Linked DNA regions of Homo sapiens: all the other regions are linked to region 3. Evidence: fine-mapped expression QTL. A gene starts in region 3. Each other region holds a variant in brackets. All regions are shown on one strand. Distances are between the middles of the regions. Region 1 overlaps FXN (frataxin). Region 2 holds the start of PRKACG (protein kinase cAMP-activated catalytic subunit gamma). Region 3 holds the start of FXN (frataxin).

Region 1 (8,179 bases), 33 kb before region 3:
AGCAGATAACACTAGTGCATGTGGCACCCTGATGGAGGTAAGAACAGAGTGCATGGGAGCCCAGAAGAAAGGGCACCTGAGTCTGCCTGAGCACTCAAGGAGGGCTTTTCCAAAGACTGAGGCTAGGATGAGGTCACCAGGAAGGGAAGCTTGGGCAATAAAAGTATCAAGGATTCCTGCATTATCAACCAAATGCTGGGGCTTGAACCTGTTCCCAGTATGGAGATAAAAATGAGTGAACCAAACCATCAGGGTCACAGGAAAAGGACTAATAAACCACACCAAGCCCAAGGACCGTCCCCTTGGCCCTATACTCTGATACTGCTATCGGGTTGCCAGGCAGAGCCTGAGTAACCTCTAGACCCCTCCACACTGCCTGAGGTGCTCTGAGCACAGGCACTGATGCCCACGTGTCCCTAGAATTCTCCTTTATTCTGCAACCTCCTCAGGGTGCGCAAGGTGGGAGGTAAGACTGCTGATTTCACAGGACCTGAAAACTTGTCAAATTAAAAAAAACAAACAAACAAAAAAAACAGGCTGCTGCAGTGGCTCACACCCATAACCCCAGCACTTTGGGAGGCTGATGTGGGAGGATTGCTTGAAGCCACGAGTTTCAGACCAACCTAGGCAACAAAGTGAGACCCCATGTTGACAAAAAAAATTATTTTTAATTAAAAATAAATAAAATTAAGAAAAAAAAAACAAAACAAAAATCAGAAATGCAGCCAGATGAAAGATATTTTGAACCAATGTGAAAGGCTGAGAGAAAAAAAAACAAAATTTTTTTTATATTAAACAACCTTTATTTGAAAAATAGTGCCTTACCATCCTAATGCTATCAATCAAACTTCAATAAGAGCAACTGCAGCATCAACCAATAACAGTTGCTAAATTAACAAGAGATCAGTCAAAAGTGCTTTAAAGGCAGCAGCACTGGCTGGTGTTTCCCTGAGCCTCTGGGCATTCAGGACCCAGGTACAGGGAAAACAGAATCAAACCAGCTGGTGTTCTGCATCCAAGCCCTCGCATCGTTACCTGCCTCCCTCCTGGTGGCCCTGGTGGCCCATGGTCCCCCTAGCACTTCTGAGCCCCTGTCAGCTGTGGGCGGGGCGCCAGGAGCCACAGGCCACTTGTAAAAGGTTGGAACTTGGTCTCATGGTCAGCTGGTTTCTTCCCATTGTGGTCATTTTCTTTTTGGAGTGCCTGGAGCACTCTCTCAATGGACACGGCGGCCCTCCAGCCTTCCTGGGCCGTTTTCTTTCTTTTTTTTTTTTTTGAGATGGGGTCTCACTGTGTCACCCAGGCTGGAGTGCAGTGGTGTGATCTCAGCTCACTGCAACCTCTGCCCCACAGACTCAGGCAATCCTTCCACCTCAGCCTCCTGAGTAGCTGGGACCACAGGCATGCATCACCACACCCGGCTAATTTTTGTATTTTTGGTAGAGACGGGGTTTCACCATGTTGCCCAGGCTGGTCTGGAACTCCTGAGCTCAAGCCATCTGCCTGCGTCAGCTTCCCAAAGTGCTAGGATTACAGGTGTGAGCTACCGTGCTTGCCCCCTGGGCCATTTTCTTACAGCAAATTGGAAGAGTCTTTCTTCAATTCCTGGGCCAGGTTTTGGGCCATCTTCATGTAGTGGTCATGGGTGTGACACATGTGGTTCAAGTTTTCATGCACCTTGCTTAGTCTCTGCTAGAGGTCGGGCAGTAGGCATCCTCCTCCGTGGACTCCCGCTATGGCCTCATCACGTTTTTGGTGCAGTTCAGGCAGAGCGGGCAGCATCAGCTGCAGCCTCAGGAGCTCCGTCTCCAGCTGTGCCCTTGCACCCTACAGAGGCCTACTCTCCAAGCTCTTTACTCCTTTGGATTTCTTCAGAGGGACTTGTAGCCAGGAAGCGGGGAGACCACCATGTCTGGTTTCCCTGTTCCCCTCCACTGCCAAGTCCCCATCATACCACCCTTGAGCAGAGGCAGGACATTCAGCGGGGTGAGTGTCAGAAAGTGACATTATTTATGCAATGTCTTGGGGGAGTGGAAAGAACTCACAGTAGCCGCTTAGCACGAGGAGGCCAGTTGCTTCACTCCAACATTCATGGCCTGTTTCATTCCTGCCTTGGCCTTTCCTTCTTCTCCTCCTTTTTTTGAGACAGTCTCACTCTGTCGCCCAGGATGGAGTGCTGTGGCACGATTTCAGTTCGTTACAACCTTCGCCTCCTGGGTTCAAGCAATTCTCCTGTCTCAGTCTCCCAAGCAGCTGGGATTACAGGTGCCTGCCACCATGCCTGGCGAATTTTTTGTATTTTTAGTAGAGACAGGGTTTCACTATGTTGCCCAGGCTGGTCTCAAACTCCTGACCTCAAGTGATCCGCCTGCCTTGGCCTCCCAAAGTGCTGGGATTACAGGCGTGAGCCACTGTGTCTGGCCCCTTCTTCTTCGCCTGCAAGCATTGCTTCTGTCTCGCAATTTCTTGGTCAGGCAGCTCTGCGGTTTGCTGATGGTCAGTGCCGTCATTCAGATAGTCTGCAGTTTGCCCCTGAAGATCCTCTCCATGGTGCTGTGAAGCATGCAGGACGCACTTTGCATCAGTCACTCGGGGAAGTTCAGGAGGCCTGCTTTTCATGCTTTTTCAGAAACTAACCTAGGTCCTGACACGAGGACCTGCTCATTTCATTTGGAACCCTCGAACAGAGGGTTTGGAGCAATCAAGGACTGGCCTCTGGCATGGTCAACGTAAGACCACCACCAGCCTGAGGTGCTGGCCGCATCTTGGCCCTGGCCTTTCTGTGGATCTCACCTTGGGCCGATTCTCCCCTTCTCAGCTTGTCATCTTCTGACTGTGAAGGCCACCACAGCAGTGCACGCCTGGGTCACCCAGGGTATTTATAGGTTCCTTGGCACTAGTCCTAAGATTCTGCACATCACTAGCACTGCCGCCCACAGGAGGGCCAGCAGCAGCTGAGTTGGCATGTCGTGGCGGCCAGCAGGCCCTCTGTGGCTCCCGAGGGCTCTGCAGCTCTGCCTCCACTTGCCAGTGGCCTGTGGGCCACAAATCACCACTCGGAACCCTGTGGGGTGTTCCGTCTCAAACAAAAACAAGGGCCCATCAGTCATTGTAGAACTTCTGTTGGGCTGGGGGGAGGGGAGGCACCCCATGTTCTAGAAAATTGTGTCCCTGATTTTGCTGTGCAAACAGAAAGTGACATTATTTATGCAATGCCTTGGGGGAGTGGAAAGAGCTCATAGTAGCCCCTTAGCACAGGCCACTCCAGGCTCCACCTGGCCCTACAGCACAGCTAGTGGGTCAAAGCAGGGCCAGGTCATAGCCCCGTGTCCACATGCGATCCTCTCAGGGTAGCATGGTGGCCTGCCTCTGTCCCTTCTGAGGCTCGTTACCAATTTCAAGCTTCCTTCTGCTGCAGGGAAGCCCGGTCCCACCTACAAAGAGTCTGTCTCCCTTGCTAGATTGAGCTCCTTGAAGATGGGACTGTGTTTTCTTCATCTCTGTATTTCCAGTAGCTCATCAATGCCCATTATACACTAGAGGCTAAGTCATTTTGGGCCCTGTTTTCTTGTTGACTCTATTCTGACTTAGGACATGTCACTTTCCCCACTGGACCTGCATATTCACATCTGTGAATAAGAGTAAGTGGGTAAAGACCCTTCTTGCTTTAAAGCCCCTCCAATACAGAGACCTCTGAAACCAGAAGCAGAAGCTGAGGAGTGGTGAATGGAGCATTTTCCCTGGCATGATGGCTGAGACCTGCAGATCTGGCTATGAGGGTGGTATCTTGCCAGTTGAATGCCTCTGCAGAATTTCACCCTACTTTTCAAAGCAGACTCAAGGATGATCTTTATTGTTGATAATTTCATGTTTTTGTTGTTGTTGTTGTTGTT[T/GTTT]TGAGGCTTTGATATTGACACAACAGCTTCTGGAAATCTTTTCCACAGAGAGTATGGGGACTTCTTTAGCCAAGTTGGGCGGGTGCAGGCTCCAACTGCTCGGCAGCCACTGTCCGGGCCACAGCATGTCCACAACCTCCTGCTCCTCTACAGGGGTTTCTCCAGACATAACCGTGTGTCTGGTCATGCCATTTGCCACAGGTATAAAAACAATGACGACGGCCCGAAACTGCGGGATCTTCCCGCGGAATCCTGTGCCTTCGCAGGTACAGCTACACGGCGCTCCCGCGCTCCGGCCTGCTCCTTCCAAGAAGACAGGCGCAGAACGGCCTGGGTCCTGCTCCCCCGGAACCCCGCAGTCTGTGTGGGCAGCAGGCCGGGAGTGGGGAGAGCCGCCCTGGTGGTGAGGCCCGGAGCGGGACGGCTGTGTTAGGCAGCATCCTGGCCTCCAGTGACCAGCAGACTGACTCGGCCTCCATCCCCCGCTGGGAGCTGCCGTCTTGCCGCCACTTCCCACAGAAGCACTGAGAGCTTGTCCTCAGGGCCCGCTTCTCTGCCTCCCTTCCCCCGACTCCCATCCGGCGGTGGCCACTCTGGATCTGCCGGAAACGGCGCAGGAAGGGGAGGGGCCTGAGGTGGACCGGGGAGCCTGTGGTCTCTGGGTGTGGCCTGCTCTGGCCAAGGCACCTCTTCAGTCTCACCCAGTCTCAACCTGCCCCGTCCCCCATATATATATATATATTTTTTTTTTTTGAGGAAGATAGTATCTGTGACAGTAAACGGCATGCTCAGCAGATCTTTCCAAATTCCCATGCTTCTGAACACAGCTAGAGCGTATTGCTGGGCAGTGTGTCCAAATACGATATGGACGTTTTCAGTCTTCAGATATGGGGAAAGTTCTTTTGGGGTAAGTGCCTGCCCGATATCTACAAAGCCACTGATCCCCAAAAGTGATCGCTGGACCGAGCTGATCCACTTCGTTCCCCCGGAGATGAAGGATAAGAACACACAGGCTCAAGCACAGCCAGGGTCAGGAAGAATGACTGAGGCCACAGAGGCTAGTTGGCCCACAGAGGTTAAAATCCTCCAACCTCCAGCACACTAACTGGGTCTAAAAACCAATACAATCTGTGAATTAGGGCCTTCCTAGAATGACAGTGATTTCTAGTGCTGTTTTTGTTGAACTCTAGCACACTTCTTGGATGAAAGTGTGGGGAAAGGAAACACACTATTTATTCTGAACAAAGCATTAGAGATCACAGAATAATAAATGGGAAAATATTAATTACCTAAAAATGATGTCAATGTTAGGGGGTAGAGTAAGGTTATAATTTTTAAAAAATGCAAATACCGTTAGTCTTTCAAAGAATTCTATGCTAGTTTTATCTGGCCCTTTCCCAATTCACAGTCAACATGCTCTCTTTGGAAGTGCTAATGAATGACTGGATCTGAGAACGTTTTGTGGGCATTTCTCTTTTACTTTCTTACAACCACTTCAACAGCAGCCAGGCTGCTGAGGGATGAGGGATGTCTCTCCCTGCATGTTCTCAGGCTTTCAGATGCTATGCAGGCCACATTGTGTCTCCAACACAATCTTTTATTCCTCTAGATTGAAAGCACATCAATGGAAAAGGCAGGAGGGATTAAATGCCCTGGAGCAGCAATATATAACACTCTACCACCTCCACAGGGTACACAACCCCAACCTGCAAAGGGAATTCAAATAACCCTTTACCTGAGAGGCTCAAAACAAGTAGAGGTCAAACTTTAACTTGCTTTGAAGACAAAGTGCAACTTGTTCAAACGCTACAAGGTCAAAAGTAGCTTCTTTTAAAGTCAGGGCAATAATTTAATAGAGGAAAACTGTCTAGGCTGGATTTGGAAAAGTTATAAGCTACTCACTTCAGATCTTAATATCCTGATGCCTGCTTACAGTATCCAAATTGTCAGCAGGGAGAAGTTATGTAACTAGAGTAAACTTTTCTACTGAGAATGAGACAGGCTGCAAAATATCAGGAAAGGCTCACTTACAAGGATGCTAACATAAGACGATGACTTTTTTTTTTTTTTTGGGACAGGGTCTGGCCCTGTTGCCCAGGCTGGAGTGCAGTGGCGCGATCTTGGCTCACTGCAACCTCCACCTCCTGGGCTCAGGCTGAGGCTCAACCTCAGCCTTCCAAGTAGTTGGGACTATAGGCGTGTGCCACCACACCTGGCTAATTTTTATATTTTTAGTAGAGGTGGGGCTTTGTGACATTGCCCAGGCTGGTCTCAAACTCCTGAGCTCAAGTGATCCACAGGCCTTGGCCTCCCAAAGTGCTGGGATTACAGGTGTAAGCCTGCACCCAGCTGTGACTTTATTTTTATTTTCTTTACAGAGACAGGGACTCACTATGTTGCCCAGGATGGTTCTGAACTCCTGTCCTCAAGTGATCCTCCTACCTCAGCCTCTCAAAGTGTTGGGATTACAGGTGTCAGCCACTGTGCTCAGCCGACATTTCTTAAATGGTCCACAATGTCACATTTCGGAAGTCTTTAAGAATTACATATGTTGACTTCTGAACATACCTACATACCTGGATGGAGAAGATAGCCAGATTTGCTTGTTTGGCGTCTGCTTGTTGATCACATAGGTTCCTAGATCTCCACCCAGTTTGACAGTTAAGACACCACTCTAGGGGATTAGGTGGAAAAAAAGCATAAAGAAATTAAAACAAGAAAAAGTTAGCACTTTGTCATCATTGCTTCATGTTTTATCTCAACACTTTCCATTTCTACAAGTACACAAAATACACCATAAAGAAATGTCTTTTAGTATTTAGAAATAGGAGTTTGTGTAGGAAGAGCTTTGCTTTCAGAATCAGAATAGGATTAATCATAATGATGTTGTATCTCATAGAGCTTTCCCTGTTCCCTGTGAGGTCTGCAAGGTGAGAATGGTGGTGAAGCTCGGAGAGTTAAGTGACCTGTCTCAGGTCTTGGTGCTGGCATCTGGGACTGCTGGTTTGTTGCCCTCAACCATCAACCAGAACATACTAGAGGACATAAAAAAAATGCAGACTCTAACTCTATTAGAGTACCACGTCAACTCAAACATCAGACATGACAAGTCTATTACAGAGGAAGTAAAAGGAAGGTAAGGAAGTATGCAAACCATCTGCTTTGCTTGTCTTAGGAGAGCATTAGCTTCAGCTCTGTTGGTAGAAGGCAGAAACTCCAGATGAAGTTTTTTATTTCCAGACTCTTCCCACGCATCTAACAAGCTTCTCAGATACTCCTCCAAGGCTTTATTTTTCTCTAAAGAGCCTTGAATTCTTCAAAAGACTAGTTGGTGCATCTTTGACCAATAAATGCTCATTTAAATTTGAAAACACTCTTTCAACAAAAGAGTCCTTTACTTCTAAGGCCTGTGGTCTCTTTAGAATGGGTGAGATATGAAAGAAACAGCTACAGGGCTAGTTCTCTGTATTTGAACTGGTAAGCAGGGGGAAGCCTGCTGTTCCCCATCTTGTGCATGACTTGCAGAGATACACGGTGGCAGCCTTTTTCTGTGCATTCTAGAGCCTCCATCCAATCGAGAGGCTCTGAATGATTCTTATAACACACTTTTGCAAACACAGAGAGCTATTTAGGCCAGGCATGGCTCATGCCTGAAATTCCAGCACTTTGGGAGGCCGAGGCAGGCAGATGGCTTGAGCCCAGAAGTTCCAGACCGGCCTAGGCAATATGGCAAAACCCTGTCTCTACTAAAAATGCAAAAATTAGCCAAGTGTGGTGGCATGCGCCTGTGGTCCCAGCTACTTGGGAGGCTGAAGTGGGAGGATCACCTGAGCCCAGGAGGTTGAGGCTGCAGTGAGCTGAGATCACACCACTACACACCAGACTGGGCGACAGAGATCCTGTCTCAAAAGCAAAGCAAAACAAAACAAAAAACCCAAAAAACAAAGAGTTATTGAAATTCCAGAGGGTAGTAACAATAATAATATAACTGATAGGAATGGGACAAGGGGCACTACTGGGTTATTTTTTTAAAATAACATCTTTTTCTGATTCAAAAACAAATGTATAGAAATGATGGAGACGTCAGCAATGCAGACACTGATAAAAATATTAACCACTATTTACTCGGTTCCTACTGTGCCAGGCTTGGTGTTTGGCACTTTGTGTAAATTGTTTCCAACTTGACTACAATTGTTGGCGGTAGGATTCATTATTCCAGTTTCACAGATGAGGAAAACAGAGGTTCATAGTAAAGAGTACTCAGTAATTGGCAGAGCTAATCTTAA
Region 2 (8,179 bases), 20 kb after region 3:
CTGAATGTCTTAAGGACCTATGAACTCAATGTGTTCAATCCTGAATTCATTATTGTCTTCAATAAATTTGTTTCTTTCTTTCTCTTCCCCACCCCCGCCTTGTCCCATTTGCTTTGCTTAAAAAAAAAGCTTTGCTTCCTTTATGTGGAAAGACACATAAAGGAAGAACTGAAAAACCAGGGCTCAGGACAGAAGGCAAGGAACTTATTGGCCAACAGCTGTAGAAACATGGACAGCCTTCTAAGATGCTGTATTTGGATGGCTCCTTTACAAATGCCTCAAATCCCCCTGTGTCTCTGCTCAAGATTCAATTCCTGAGAGACATAAACTGATCGATCTATCTTGGGTCCTGTGGCCATCCCTGACTTTGACTCAGGTGAGTGGGTTAGATTGGGAACCCAACAGAATCAGATGAAATGAGGTAGAAGTAATCCCTCAAAGATAAAACAGAGTGCTATTGCCAGGAAACGAAGGAGAACTACAAAATATGGGGAAAATAATTTTATAAAAATTGTCTCCCTTTTGTGGATTTAAACAGTATATAAAAGTGACATATAAAATATAAGTAAATGCATTTGTGAGAAACCAATGTTTTACCTCATTTTTATTTTAATAAGTAAAGTAATTCATGCTCAAAATTAATTTTAGCAATTCAGAAGCTTATAAAGTGAGAAGTAAAAATTTTCCTTCCTTTAATTTATGCTTCTCTAAGTTCCTAGTGCTATTCCCTAGGGGTAATCACTTTTGGCAGTTCTTATATGTCAGAAGATATATTTTTAGGTAAGCAAGTTGGGCCTATTTCTAGGACTACTTTCTTTTCAGGTCCCAAAAACATTACAATGCTCATTATCATGTGTGTCAAGCCACTTCTATAAATATTATGGTGGCCGGGCACGGTGGCTCACGCCTGTAATCCTAGCACTTTGGGAGGCCGAGGCAGGCAGATCACCTGAGGCCGCGAGTTCGAGACCAGCCTGGCCAACATGGAGAAACCCCGTCTCTACTAAAAATACAAAATTAGCTGGGCATGGTGGCACATGCCTGTAATCCCAGCTACTCGGGAGGCTGAGGCAGGAGAATTGCTTGAACCCGGGAGGTGGAGGTTGCGGTGAGCCGAGATCGTGCCATTGCATTCTAGCCCGGGCAACAAGAGCAAAACTCGGTCTCAAAAAAAAAGAAAAAAAAAATTGTGGCAAAATTAGTGGTACCAAGGGATGAATGATTGCCCAAACTTTAAATAAATGTAGTACTTTATAAATTATTGTCATTAAGTTATTTCTGAACTTCCTGACTCCCATAATTTTTCATCTTTCATATAACAAAGGCCACGCCAATTTTTAAATCAGCATTTTATAGATCATAAATCTGACATAGAAACTTTGTGTTCAAAAATGTTCTTTTACAATATTCTGCTAATAAGGAGAAAACAAACTATTAATAGAAGCTGGCTTGTCAAAATCCAGGTATGATAAGTATTTCTGGACCAGAACATGCAGTGTTATGTAAATAATTCCCTGAGTGATAGAGATTTGTAGTTTATTTCTTATTTGAATCCTGGTGGAGTTTGTTCTTTTCTTTGCTCCCATCAATATTTTGGAGATAGAGAGGAAGTTAGAATTGAATGATCCAAGCCTTATGCAATTAGCCATTTGGAAACTGCTATATAAACAGTAAAGAGGAGAATCAGCTGGCATGACTGCCAGTGAGCAGTTTTTTGGGAGAAGAATGGTCTTGATTGCCTTTCATTGGGCATACAGGAAAGCAGAGTTGGCTTTCACCTCTTCATTTGGCCCCCTAGGCAAGCTCCAAGCAGATCATGCAGAGGTATTGTATCTTGCTACACAAATCTTTTCCTTCTGAAAGGGTTTATCTGAATGCAAAAGGATTCCTGTTTCCTTGGCATGCTAAGGACTCCCTTGCTCCCCAAGGCCATGGAGAAAAGCAGAACGGAAAGTGGAGAGAAATAACAAATGTAATTATTCTGCAGCTTGTTCTGGGATAAATACTTGATGTTCTGACCTGTAAACGAAGCATGGGGACATTTCTAGTGTGCAGCATATGTTCCCTCTAGACCCCTGTGTCTTCCTAATTGAACTTCAGAGATTAATGCCACAAGAATTTGTCATGGAATGGCACAGCCTGCTTCTAAACAAACTGTCCCACTTCCAAGGCGTCGGTCCAAGAGAATGGCTTCCCACTAATTGCTCTTTGTGTATAAATTTCTACTGAATAATCTGGAGGTAAGTCAGAAATGGGCAGAATTTTAGCAGATCTACTGTGATGAAAATGAAGAGGAAATCACTGAGATTATGGGGGAGACGTGGAATTTCCATCTGCCAGGGATTTGCCTTGACCCAAAGCACAAGGGGCAATTGACCCCCCTGCTATGTTCTTGAGGGAATGTGGGTTTCCCTTTTGTGGAAGTTCAGATGATCAACAGTAGATTTTTCTCCTTTCCTCTTCTTCCTCTCTAACCTGACCGTCTCTGAATATACAGTCAGTACCCAAGTACTGGCCCCAGATTAAACCGTAAACTCGGAACCAGGCCTTGCACACAATAGACACCTGCTTGACCAACATCTGCTGAACTGAGCGGCAAGAATTCACAGTCACAATAGAAACCTTCTACTTGGAGTCAAGTAATCAGGGATTCCTCTCCAATTTGCTTGGTTTCAGCCTGCAGGGCTAGGTGAAAGTGTGTTGTTTACTTGCACTAGCTACAGGCGGTGTAGCCAGGGTGGGTAGGCAGAATTAGCTGTCAAACTTAAAGGGCAAGATGGAGAGAAAATAGGAGGATAAATGGGTATTCCTGTAGCTCAGTGTTTATGATGTAGGACAGAATCTTTGTACAGAATTGACTGGGGAGAGCAGCTCAGAACCCACCCTGTGATGGCTGAGTGCTGGCAGTCTTCTGGAGGGTGTGTGGGGCGGCTGACATGGTGGCCTGGGGGAGTGATGGAAGGCCCATCATCTATGTACTTTGACTTCTCATAAACTCCTGTGGCATGTTTTTAATAATTGATAGAATAAGTAAACAGAAAGTCAATAAGAATATAGAAGACCTGAACACTACTACTAGCCAACTTGACCTAAGTGACATTTGTAGAACACTGTATCCTCAAACAGCAGAATACACCAGAATATACATTCTTCTCAAGTGCATATGGGCCATCTACCAAGATAGATCATATTCTGGGCCATAAAATGAGCCCCAAGAAGTGTAAAACATTTTAGGTCACACAGAGTATGTTTTCTAACAATGGAATTAAATCAGAAATCAATAGGAAAATTCTTGAAAAATCCCCAAGTATTTGGAAACGAAATAATATACTTTTAAATAGCTTATCTGTCAAAGAAGATGAAAAGGGAGCTTAGAAAATATTTTGAGCTGGATGAAAAGGAAAATACAACATACCAAAATTTGTGGGATGCTGCAAAAAATAATACTTAGGAGGAAATTTATAGCACTAAGTGATTGTAATAGAAGAAAGATTTCAAATCAGTGACCTTAGTTCCCACCTTAGGAAATAAGAGCAATTAAACCCAAA[G/A]CAAACAGAAGAAAGGAAATCATATGTATGTGTTAAAATAAAACATTACATGCAGTAAAACTGAATTTTGGGGGGAAGTATACAGTTCTTTGAGGTGTTTGTTTGTTTGTTTGTTTGTTTTTGAGATGGAGTTTCACTCTTATTGCCCAGGCTGGTGTGCAGTGGCACGATCTCTGCTCACTGCAACCTCTGCCTCCCAGGTTCAAGCAATTCTCCTGCCTCAGCCTCCCGAGTAGCTGGGATTACAGGCATGCGCCACCACGCCTGGCTAATTTTTTTGTATTTTTAGTAGAGACGGGGTTTCACTATGGTGGTCAGGCTGGTTTCGAACTCCTGACCTTGTGATCCGCCCGCCTCGGCCTCCCAAAGTGTTGGGATTACAGGCTTTAGCCACTGCGCCCGGCCAGTTCTATGAGTTTTAAAACAAATGTAGACCACCACCCAATACATTGTAACCACCAGCACAATCAGGATACAAACATGTCCCACCACTTCCCACATTCCCTCAGGCTGTCCCTTCATAGTCCAACCGTCCCCTAACCCCAAGCCCTGGCAATCACTGATCTGTTCTCTCACACTATAGTTTTGCCTTTTCTGGAATGTCATAGAAATGGATTCATACAGTAAGTCTCCTTTAGAGTTGGCTTCTCTCACTTGCATAATGCCTTTTGGATTTATCCATATTGTTGAGTGCAGCGGCGTGATCTTGGCTCACTGAAGCCTTGACCTCCCAGGCTCAAGAAATCCTCCCATCTCAGCCTCCCATGTAGCTGGGAATATAAGCGGAGGCCGGGCGGGGGTCGCAGCGCCGCAGCCAGCGCAGCCAGCCCCAGGGGGCGCCATCTCCGCCGCTGCCGCCGCCGCCGCCGCCGCCGCGAGACCCCCGCCCCTGCCGCCGCCACCGCCATGGGCAACGCCCCCGCCAAGAAGGACACCGAGCAGGAGGAGAGCGTGAACGAGTTCCTAGCCAAAGCCAGAGGAGATTTCCTCTACAGATGGGGAAACCCCGCTCAAAACACCGCCAGCTCGGATCAGTTCGAACGGCTCAGGACGCTGGGCATGGGCTCCTTCGGGCGGGTGATGCTGGTGAGGCACCAGGAGACCGGCGGCCACTACGCCATGAAGATCCTCAACAAGCAGAAGGTGGTGAAGATGAAGCAGGTCGAGCACATACTGAACGAGAAGCGCATCCTGCAGGCGATCGACTTTCCGTTCCTCGTCAAGCTCCAGTTCTCCTTTAAGGACAACTCCTACCTGTACCTGGTGATGGAGTACGTGCCGGGTGGGGAGATGTTCTCCCGCCTACAGCGCGTCGGAAGGTTTAGCGAGCCCCATGCCTGTTTCTATGCCGCCCAGGTCGTCCTGGCCGTCCAGTACCTACACTCGCTCGACCTCATCCACCGCGACCTGAAGCCCGAGAATCTCCTCATCGACCAGCAGGGCTACCTGCAGGTGACGGACTTCGGTTTCGCCAAGCGCGTGAAGGGCCGCACTTGGACCTTGTGCGGGACCCCAGAGTACCTGGCCCCCGAGATCATCCTGAGCAAAGGCTACAACAAGGCCGTGGACTGGTGGGCCCTAGGGGTGCTCATCTATGAGATGGCCGTGGGCTTCCCACCCTTCTACGCCGACCAGCCCATCCAGATCTACGAGAAGATCGTCTCTGGGAGGGTGCGGTTTCCCTCCAAACTCAGCTCTGACCTCAAGCATCTGCTGCGGAGCCTGCTGCAGGTGGACCTCACCAAGCGCTTCGGAAACCTCAGGAACGGGGTTGGCGACATCAAGAACCACAAGTGGTTCGCCACAACCAGCTGGATCGCCATCTATGAGAAGAAGGTGGAAGCTCCCTTCATCCCGAAGTACACAGGCCCTGGGGATGCCAGTAACTTTGACGACTACGAGGAGGAAGAGCTCCGGATCTCCATCAATGAGAAGTGTGCCAAGGAGTTTTCTGAGTTTTAGGGGTGTGCTTGTGCCCCTGTGGGTTTTCTTTCCTTTTTGTTTTTGGTGGTTTGGGGGATGGGAGGGTTGGATTGAACAGCCAGAGGGCCCCAGAGTTCCTTGTATCTAATTTCATCCTCACCCCACCCTCCAGGGTTGGGGGAGCAGGAAGCCCAGATATTTGGAGGAACAGAAACACCAGCTGCTCCCTCACCCCCCCCCATGCCTTCCTGGTCCCTCTGTGCTTCTCTCTTTCTCCTCCCACAGGGTCCCCCTTGCCCCAGCCCCCTTCTGCCTGTTTTAAACGAGTTTCTCAGCTCTATTCAGGCCAGGTCTTGCTGTTGTATCAAGGGACACGGTGTGGAAAGAGGGGCTCAAACTTAACTCCAGCCCTGAACAGGCACCACTTACTAAGAGAGGATGAATGAAAAGCACACCTACCCTTTGGCGTAATCCTGCCTGGGAAGGAGAGAGGTTTAGTGCCATGTTCAGTGGGCTGTTTGCTAGAATAAAAAATTAAAACAAAAAACAATTAAAATCTTATTTAAGTTCCACCAGTGTCCCCTTTCCTCCTTCCTCTACTTCCACCCCTCCCACCCTTCCCACCTTACCGTGTCTCCCCATTCCATTTTAACAAATCCAGGAAGCCGACTGACTTTGGAAGGAGGCTCTGGGGTTTGAACTTCCCCCATGAACTGCTGATTTCCCCCTCCCCCCTCCCCAGGGGCATCCTCTATCACTCTTGCAAAGGTCTCAGTTCTTTTAGGAAGCTCCACTCTCTTCTTCCCCAGCAGACTTTTCTTCACCCTTGGGCTTTGGGAGCCAGAAAAGCAGCTGCCCTACTCCCTGCCAAAGAGGAGTTGTCCCCCAAAAAGACAGAGTGGGAGTTCCAAGCCCAAGTCTTTCTTCACAGCAGCATTTCCCCGAAACTCCTTAATTTTATTCTCAGCCAGATTGTGATGCCCAGCCTCTCCTTATGGGAAGGCAGTCCTGCAAAAGGACATGGAAGAGGCCCAGCCCCTCCACCCCCACCTCATCGCCCAGGGTTCAAGGCTAGGGTTGCTGGGGAGGGGCTGCCTGTTTTATTCACCCAGCAGCTTCTGCCTTCTCCCATCCTGGGTGCCCCTCTCCAGCTTAGCTGTCAGCCATCCTTCACCTCTTCTCCCCTGCCACCCCGTGCTGTTTTCAATTTTTTTTTTTTTTTGACATGAAGTCTCACTCTGTCACCCAGGCTGGAGTGCAGTGGTACAATCTCAGCTCACTGCAACCTCCGCCTCCCGGGTTCAAGCGACTCTCCTGCCTCAGCCTCCCGAGTAGCTGGGATTACAGGGGCCCACTACCATCCCCGGCTAATTATTGTATTTTTAGTAGAGACGAGGTTTTGCCACATTGGCCAGGCTGGCCTTGAACTCCTGACCTCAGGTGATCCAGCTGCCTTGGCCTCCCAAAGTGCTGGGATTATAGGAGTGAGCCACCGTCCCTGGTCTGTTTTCTTTCTTAATAGAAAAGTGAGGAGCTGCTGGCAAGCCACCTCATTCATCTTCATATTTCCCCCTCTCATCACTTCTCCCCATCCCAGGAGGAGCTCTCAGGCCTGGGGTGGGTCCCCAGGTGGGCTCAGGGTGATTCAACCTGCTTGCTGTGAAAAGATGAGATTTCCTCTTGAACAGTGTGCTGTTGTAAACATATGTCAAAACTATTACCAATAAGGCCGGGTGCTGTAATCCCAGCACTTTGGGAGGCCAAGGCAAGTGGATCACTTGATGTCAGGAGTTTGAGAACAGCCTGGCTAACATTGCAAAACCTCGTCTCTACTAAAAAATACAAAAATAGCTGGGCGTAGTGGCATGCACCTGTAATCCCAGCTACTTGGGAGACTGAGGCAGGAGAATCGCTTGAACCTGGGAGGCAGAGGTTGCAGTGAGCCGAGATCGCATCACTGCACTCCAGCCTGGGTGACAGAGTGAGACTCTGTCTCAATACAACAAAACAAAAAACCAACTATTACCAATAAAGTTTTGTTAAAAAAGAACTGGCAAAACTAATCTATGATGCTGGAAGTCATAATAGTGACCTTTGAGGATGGCATTGGTGGAGAGGGGACATGAAAGAGCCAGCAGGTGGCCAGGCACGGTGGCTCACGCCTGTAATCCCAGCACTTTGGGAGGCCAAGGCGGGCGGATTACGAGGTCAGGAGTTCAAGACCAGCCTGGCCAACATGGTGAAACCCTGTCTCTATTAAAAACACAAAAAATTAGCCAGGCATGGTGGCAGCTGCCTGTAATCCCAGCTACTCGGGAGGCTGAGGCAGGGGAATTGCTTAAACCCGGGATGCAGAGGTTGCAGTGAGCTGAGACTGCACCACCGCACTCCAGCCTGGGCGACAGAGCGAGACTCTGTCTCAAAAAAAAAAAAAAAAAAAAAGCCAGTAGGTTAGCTGCAAATGTTTTCTATGCGCTTTAGGTGCTGGGCACATGGGTCTACACATATGTAAAAATTCACTGGACTATACAATTCATAGCTGTGCACTCTAGCATATGTAAGTTATACCTCAGTCATTAAAAAACGGTTGAAAATGTTGAGGTTTTTTGAGACAGGTGAGACAACACAGGCAGGCCACGGGTGATTCAAGTGGGGATAGAGTTTTGAGGATCACAGCCTCATGGTATTGAAACGGCTTTTGAGTTAGG
Region 3 (8,179 bases):
AAATACAGATAGAGCATTTACTTAGAAATTGTGAATTGAGATATGCTGGAAGTATATGAGTACGAAAAGAGTATGCAAGATATCTTATTACTGATTTTTTTTGTATGTCACAGAATCCCCCAAAATCTTGGCTCACTGCAACCTCTGCCTCCTGGGCTCAAGTGATTCTCATGCCTCAGCCTCCCGAGTAGCTGGGACTACAGGCACCCACCACCATGCTGAGCTAGTTTTTAGTAGAGATGGGGTTTCACCATGTTGGCCAGGCTGGTCTTGAACTCCTGATCTCAGATGATCCACTCGCCTCGGCCTCCCAAAGTCCTGGGATTACAGTCGTGAGCCACCGTGCCTGGTCTCATTACTGATTTTTAAAATACTGATTACATGTTGGAATGATAATATTTTGTATGTACTAGGTTGAATAAATATATTGTTGAAAATGATTTTTTTTTCTTTTTAACTAGAAAATGTAGAATTATGTGTGTGGCTCCCATTCTGTTTCTGTTGAACAGCTGCTTTAGAAGTAGATGCAAGGGGTGGAGAAAAGGGTGGGGAAGAGGCCTTCAAGTGAACTCAGTTTCTGATGAATTTTGGAGACCAGGGGGAGCTTAGGGTCAATCCAGGACAGTCAGGGCTTTAAAATAATTAAACAGGATGGTGGCCCCAGTTGCCACTGCCACCCACCCAACTCCTCAAATACCCAAGATGTGCAAGGGAACTATGGAACAGACAGGTTAAACAAATGTGATTAATTCAGTATAGAAAAAAAGAGGCCCAGCTGGTGACAGAGGTTGCTAACCATCTATCCAGAAACCCAGTGTCCACCTCCTGGGCGGCAGCGCCAAGTTGGGTGTGTTTGTCAGTCAATAGCCCTTAACAGCCACCAGGTACCATCTAAAAAACTGTACCACCTCTTGTCATTCTCCTAAATTAAAAACTCTGCTGATGGCCAGACGCGGTGGCTCACGCCTGTAATTCCAGCACTTTGGGAGGGCGAGGTGGGCGGATCACCTGAGGTTGGGAGTTCGAGACCAGCCTGACCAACATGGAGAAATCTGTCTCTACTAAAAATACAAAATTAGCCGATAATCCCAGCTACTCGGGAGGCTGAGGCAGGAGAATCACTTGAACCCAGGAGGCAGAGGTTGCAGTGAGCTGAGACTGAGCCACTGCACTCCAGCCTGGGCAACAAGAGGGAAACTCTGTCTCAAAAAAACAAAACAAAACACAACTCTGCTGACAACCCATGCTGTCCACACAGGCAGGGGTGGAAGCCCAATACGTGGCAGCTCAGATAGTGCACAGAAGCCAAGTAATAAATGTCTGCTTTCCTAGAGGAGATCTAAGGACCATCATGGCCACACTTGCCTATTTTTCCAGAGATGCTGGGAAATCCATTTTATTTTTTATTTTTATTTATTATTATTATTTTTTGAGACGGAGTCTTGCTCTGTCGCCCAGGCCGGAGTGCATTGGGCGATCTTGGCTTAATGCAACCTCTGCCTCCCGGGCTCAAGCGATTCTCCTGCCGCAGCCTCTGGAGTAGCTGGGATTACAGGCGCGCGACACCACGCCCGGCTAACTTTTCTTTATTTTCTTCTTCTTCTTCTTCTTTTTTTTTTTTTTTTGTATTTTTTAGTAGATACTGGGTTTCACCATGTTGGCCAGGTTAGTCTTGAACTCCGGACCTCAGGTGATCCACCTTCCTAGGCCTCCCAAAGTGCTGAGATTATGGGCATGAGCCACCGCGTCCTGCCAGGAAATCCATTTTCTAAGTCCTAACTTTTAAGCACTGGCAACCAATCCCAAAGTTTCTTCAAACACAATGTGGGCCAAATAACACGTGTGGGAAGTTCAAGCCTAAAGTACAAACTCCGGAGAGCAACACAAATATGGCTTGGACGTGGCCTGCCTCTTTCATCTCCCCTAATACATGCGGCGTACCAGCCACTCTGAAGGGATCCCCTTCCGCCTTCCTGGCCTTTGCCCAGACGGTTCCCTCCTCGTGAAACACCCTCTACCACTTCCTTGGCATCTTCAAGACCCTCATTAAATACCATGTCCTCCCCTTGAGGAATCTTCCTCATCCCCACAGCCATTCTTTGGGTTTCCTCCTTTCAAGCCGTGGCGTAACTGGGTCAGATATTTCTTTGTACCCCCCAAAGGAAGAAAGGGGAACTAATTTGAAGTTCTGAAGACTTTATCTATGTTATTCCCATTTAATCCTCACACCAGGTCCGCAAAATGGGCGTCACCTTTATCTTCTCCCTACAGAAAACAAAGCCACGTCTCAGAGAGGTTAGGGGAATCCCCCAAGGTCACACAGCTCTGCGGAGTGGGGCAGAATCTGGAATAAAGGTCGGGTCAGTTTCCAAAAGCCAGGGCCCCTGCTGCTCTAGCTATTCTGCAGCTCTGAAAGTTTCACCTCGTTCCAGGAAAGCATTTCGTTCAAAAAAATCCAGCCTTGAAAATATTAGGTGTGCGCGCGCCCGTGCGCGCAAACACACACACACAACACACACGCTATATACAGATACACACAGACACACACATTATGTGTATGTATATACTAGCAGATACCATCTATTAATATTACTGAAACAAGTTATCGCAGAGAAGTGACAAGCATGGAGACAGCCGCACACCCCTCGGAACCGGTCCCCTCCACCAGCCTGCCCTGCCTTCGCCCGTGCCTTGACCCGCAGTCGCACCGCAGGACAAAATGTCCCCTTTTCCTTCGGAAAGCAGAAGCCAGTGTAAATGCAACCGGGAGAACCAGAGAAGGGAGTTGCAAGGCCGCTTCCGCCGGGCCGCCCTGAGAAGGAGCGGGGTGAGCTAGTCCAGCGCGCGTACCCGGAGCGACCCCGGCGTGCGCGGCGCCTCCCTGCGCAGGCGTGCGGCGTGCGGCCCGCGGCGTGCGGCCCGCGGCTGTTCCCGGCGCGGATACTTACTGCGCGGCGGGGCGTGCAGGTCGCATCGATGTCGGTGCGCAGGCCACGGCGGCCGCAGAGTGGGGCCAACTCTGCCGGCCGCGGGACCCGGGTGAGGGTCTGGGCCTGGGCTGGGCTGGGTGACGCCAGGAGGCCGGCTACTGCGCGGCGCCCGAGAGTCCACATGCTGCTCCGGGTCTGCCGCCCGCTCCGCCCTCCAGCGCTGGGTGCTGCGGCGACCCCTGGTGGCCACTGGCCGCAGGCACTCTTCTGTGGGGGAGCAGCTAGAGGTTAGACCTCAGGAAGAACTTCCCAGCTTAGCACTATTCGTGCATTTAACAAAAATGGAGAGCCTGCTTTGTGCAAAGCACGGAGTGCAACCAGGACCCCTGACCCAAGGGAGACTGCAGCCTGGTGGCCCGCCGCTTCTAAAATTCTAAACAGGAGGAACTTGGGAGCTGCTGTCTTGCTGGGAAGTGGGTGCATGCACAAATTGAGGCTGCTTGGCCGCCGGTATGGGTTTACAGCAGTTGGGTATGTGGGGCCAGGAGACGGATGCCTTGTGTAAATCTGTACTCTGCCCACTTCCTAGCTGTGTGACCAGAGGGCAAGTTAATTAACCTCTCTGTGCCTTGTTTATAAAATGCGTTTTATAAAAGTTCCTACTTCATAGGATTGTGGTAAGGATAAAATGAGTTAAGCCCTGTAAAGTTTTTTTTGGACAGGGCATGTTCCTGTTAAGTGCACAATAAATATTGTTAATAGATTTTATTGATTGATTGATTGATTGAGACGGAGTCTCGCTCTGTCGCCCAGGCTGGAGGGCAGTGGTGCGATCTCGGCTCACTGCAAGCTCTGCCTCCCGGTTTCACGCCATTCTCCTGCCTCAGCCTCCCGAGTAACTGGGACTACAGGCGCCCGCCACCATGCCTGGCTAATTTTTTGTATTTTTTTTTTTTTTTAGTAGAGACGGGTTTCACCGTGTTAGCCAGGATGGTCTCGATCTACTGACCTCGTGATCCACCCGCCTCATTTATTTGTTTGTTTGAGACAGAGTCTCACTCTGTTGCCCAGGCTGGAGTGCAGTGGTGTGGTCCTGGCTTACTGCAACTTCTCCCTCCCGGGCTCAAGCAGTCTTCCCATTTCAGCCTTCCAAGTAGCTGGGACTACAGGTGTGCACCACCACACCCAGCTAGTTTTTGTATTTTTTGTAGAAAGGGGGTTTCGCTATGTTGCCCAGGGTGGTCTTGAACTTCTAGGCTCAAACGATCTGCCCGCCTGGGCCTCACAAAGTGCTGAGACGACAGGCGTGAGCCACCGTGCCTTGCCTATTGTTGATAGATTTTAAAAGAGAATTTTATTTCTGTTACATATTACAAAGGGATGCAAATTGTGAAAGTTTTCTTCACATTTTATATATGCTTTAGAGGATGTCAAATGTGAGCCGAGTGTGGTAGTGCATGCCTGTGATCTCAGCTACTCAGGAGGCTGAGGCGGGAGGATCACTTGAGCCTGGGAGCTCAAGGCTGCAGTGAGCTATGATTGTGCCTGTGAATAGCCACAGCATTCCAGCCCGGCCATCATAGCAAGATACTGTCTTAAAAAAAAAGAAAATGTCAGTTGTGTACACTTTCCATGGCAGAGAAGATGGGAAGGTACTAAAGTTCTTCCAAAGCCACTTTGTGAATCGTGAAGAGAGACATGTTTACATACTTAGGATGCTAAATGACAAGTGTCAAGAGGAATGTAAACTAACAGGTGTGAGTGTTGAGTGGGAGATTTATATAGAGCTAGGGATGGGGGAATCAAGGAAGTATTCATGGAAGAAGTGGTGTTGGCACAGGGCCTTCAAAAATAGGGTGGAGGAGGTGGGATCTGATTGCCTATCAAAGAGGTGGTCCAGGGCATTCTGGATGAGAGACATCCTTCTGTGTTTAATTAATTCTAGGCAGCTGCTTAAATACTGTTATGTATATGCCAGGCCTGGAGAAATCATTTTCCCCCTGCAAAGTATCTGGAGATGCTTTTGATTGTCACAACAGGCAGCTGTGGGGTGGGTATGTTCTACTGGCATCTAGTAGGTAGAGGCCAGGGATGAAACATCCTGTGATGTGCAGGACAGCCCCCCACCTGTGCAACAAAGAACTATCCAGTCCAAAATTCTGCCAAGATTGAGAAGCCCTCCTTGAAACCATAAAGGGAGAGCCCATAGGCATCAAAGGGTAGTGTTTTCATTGCCAGCCATGGTCTCAGACTCTGCCACACCAACAGTGAGGCCCTTCCTCACATCATCAGAACTGCATTATATACTCAGAGAGAGAAAGCTGCATCATTAGTTATTATTATTATTATTATTTGAGACAGAGTCTTGCTTTGTTGCCCAGGCTGGAATGCAGTGGTGCCATCTCTGCTCACTGCAATCTCCACCTCCTGGGTTCAAGAGATTCTGTCTCAGCCTCCAGAGTAGCTGGGATTGCAGGTGCCCACCACCACGCCTGGCTAATTTTTGTATTTTTAGTAGAGATGGGGTTTCATCATGTTGGCCAGGCTGGTCTCGAACTCCTGACCTCAGGTGATCCGCCCGCCTCGGCCGCCCAAAGTGCTGAGATTACAGGCGTGAGCCACCGCACCCTGTGCTACATCATTATTAGCTAGCATGCTTAGCAAGTTCTGGCATAGAAAGGTCACTAGCAAATGCTCCAGCTCCCTGCAAAGTTGATATCATTGCCCCATCTTTTTGGCCAAAGAAATAGACATAGAATAGCATATCAGAGAAGACGAAGGCTTCGCAAGAACTTGTCTTTCTCCACTTCCTTGGAGGTAGTCAAGAGGAATCAGGCACACTTGGTAAGAAGCTGGGGCACCGTGGCGTGGGCAAAGATGTTGAGGGACTCTGTGGTACACTGTAGCTGTTCCTCTCTTGGTTGCTTTTAGCCTCAAGTAGGCAGATCCTAATAGCTGTCAGGTTATGGGTAGGGGAGGATATCACCAGAATTCCCTTGCTCTGCCATTAGGATATTTTGATAGGATTTATCAGAGGGCTATGATTATCAAATGTGGTCGCTGGGCCAGCAGCCTCAGCATCACCTGGAAACTTGTTAGAAATACAAATTCTCAGGCCCTATTCTCGATCTACTGAATCAGAATCTCTGGGGTTTCAAGGCCCAGCAATCCATGGTTTAACAAGACCTCCAGGTGATTCTAATGTGCTTTAAAGTTTCAGAAGCACTGTGGTAGCATAGGCCTTGGGCAAAATTGTGAGTTAAGCCAGTGTCACCAGGGTGATCATTTTAAATCTAAAAATCTAAATCTCAAATGTGAATCTAACCATAGCCCTCTGCTTTCACCACCATCAAGATAAATTCCAACTTTCTTAGCATGACAGAGGAAGCTCTCTTGCCCACCTTAGCTCTCCCAGCGCCCTTACCACTCTCTTCTGTACACCCCACTCTGCATATTGGGAGGCATCTAGACATCTTTGCTTCTTCAAGCTATTTGTAGTTCCTAGAACAAGTGATGCTTTTTCCCTCTCTGGCTATCCCTCATGTTGTTCCTTAGTCTTCCATCCCTTTGCCTGGTATGGAAGATTGGATCTTCCAAAGAAGGCCACACCAATATTTGTCACATGTCATATGCTGTTTGGGACTTTGACATTCCTGTCACCCAGGGATGTTATCTATTCTCCTCCCTTCGAATTCGGGTTTGGGCTACAACTATTCCAACCAACAGGGTACTGCAGAAGTGCTGCTTGGTGACTTCCAAGTCCAGGTCATAAAAATGATGCATCTTCCTTCTAACTCCCTCTCTCTCTCTTTTTTTTTTTTTTGGGTTTTTGTTTGTTTGAAACAGAGTCTCATTCTGTTACCCAGGCTGAAATGCAGTGGTGTGGTCATAGCTCACAGCAGCCTTGACCTCCTGGAATCAAGTGATCCTCCTGCCTCAGCCTCCTAAGTAACTGGGACTATAGGTGTGCATAACCACACCTGGCTGATTTTTAAAATTTTAAAAATTTTTGGTAGAGACAGAGTCTCACTATGTTGCCCAGGCTGGTCTTGAACTCCTGAACTCAAGCAACCTCCCACCTCAGCCTCCCAAATTGCTGAGGTTACAGGTGTGAGCCACTGTGTCCGGCATTCTCTTTTTGGGATGCTGACACTGAGGACCAGCCATCATGTTTTGAGGAAATCCAAACTAGCCAAAGTAGAGAAACAATGTAGAGAGAGCTGAGGCCCCCTCAGCCAACAGCCAGGGTCAACCAGTAGACATGTAAATGAGTCATTCTTCAGATAAATTCCAGCCCCCAGCCTCCCAGTCTTCCAGCTGAATCCTTAGACATCATGGAGCAGAAACAAGGTATGCCTTATGTGTTCCATGTGAATTTCAGGCCCACAGAATCTCTGGGCAGAAAAGATGTTTTCATAGCTTTAATCCAGTATGTTTTAGGTAATTTATTACACAGCCATAGTAACCGGAACATGGGGCTACTTTCTTCATATCCTGTAGGACTCAACTCAAATGTCAGAGGTGACTTCCTCCAGAATCCTTTTATGAAACCAAACTTTCATATTCCCACAGGTGTGCCTTAGGTACCTCTCTCTGTTTCCACAGCCTGCAATGTAATTGTTAGTTTTCCTGTTTATCTAATATCTCTGACATAGACACTCTACTGGTGAATGAGTGATATTCTTTGTTGGCCTCCTGTTTCTTCAGTAGCAATCACTGTTGCTAAGGGAATGGGGTAACACAATTGGCCAGTTCAGGGACAGGGCATATTACCTGATGAAGGGCAGTGAGAAACCTTGCAGGACACCAAAACAAAAACAAAACAAGACAAAACCCAATCCTCTACAGATGACCAAACCTTAAGTCTCCAAATTCTCACTCATTCTTGCTTAGTCCTGGGCTTCAGCTCAGTGCTATGATTCAGTGCCTAAAGACTTAACTTCCTGTCAGGAGGTGACTTCAACTCTGGGGAAAAGAAATCCCACTGCATTTGCTTGGATTGATTGGTAAGAGAGATTGATAAAAGGATGTTCTTTGACATTTGCCAAGGGCAATTTTTTTCTATAATGAGGGAAGAGAAACAGCTGTTTGTCCCAGGAGACTGATTATGGCACTAGAGTCAAATCCACACTCTGGAATGCAATTTGATACATCACCTTAATATTAATATAGATTAAATTCATAAGATACTCAGCAAAGTAATCAATAATTCCAAAGTCAATAAATATTAAACATGTGAATGATGTAGA

What was found. PIP is the estimated chance that this variant, and not a neighbour inherited with it, causes the effect.
Region 1: its variant is fine-mapped to the expression of FXN in whole blood (TOPMed, PIP 0.96).
Region 2: its variant is fine-mapped to the expression of FXN in nucleus accumbens (GTEx, PIP 0.93).

What each region holds. Positions count from the first base shown.
Region 1 is chr9:69,063,326-69,071,504 of GRCh38, reverse strand. FXN (frataxin) reads right to left here. Exons shown (of 5, transcript NM_000144.5): 4 at 6,470-6,567. Among named protein-coding and RNA genes, the nearest start is that of FXN, 32 kb to the right of the region's middle. RefSeq lists enhancers at 2,551-3,050, 4,301-4,900. The variant T/GTTT (reference allele first, on the strand shown) is at 3,894.
Region 2 is chr9:69,010,368-69,018,546 of GRCh38, reverse strand. PRKACG (protein kinase cAMP-activated catalytic subunit gamma) reads left to right here and starts at 4,434. Exons shown (of 1, transcript NM_002732.4): 1 at 4,434-6,043. The coding sequence starts at 4,455. The coding sequence ends at 5,510. The variant G/A (reference allele first, on the strand shown) is at 3,549.
Region 3 is chr9:69,030,717-69,038,895 of GRCh38, reverse strand. FXN (frataxin) reads right to left here and starts at 3,144. Exons shown (of 5, transcript NM_000144.5): 1 at 2,949-3,144. The coding sequence starts at 3,113. RefSeq lists silencers at 1,909-2,203, 2,786-3,255 and an enhancer at 2,576-2,625.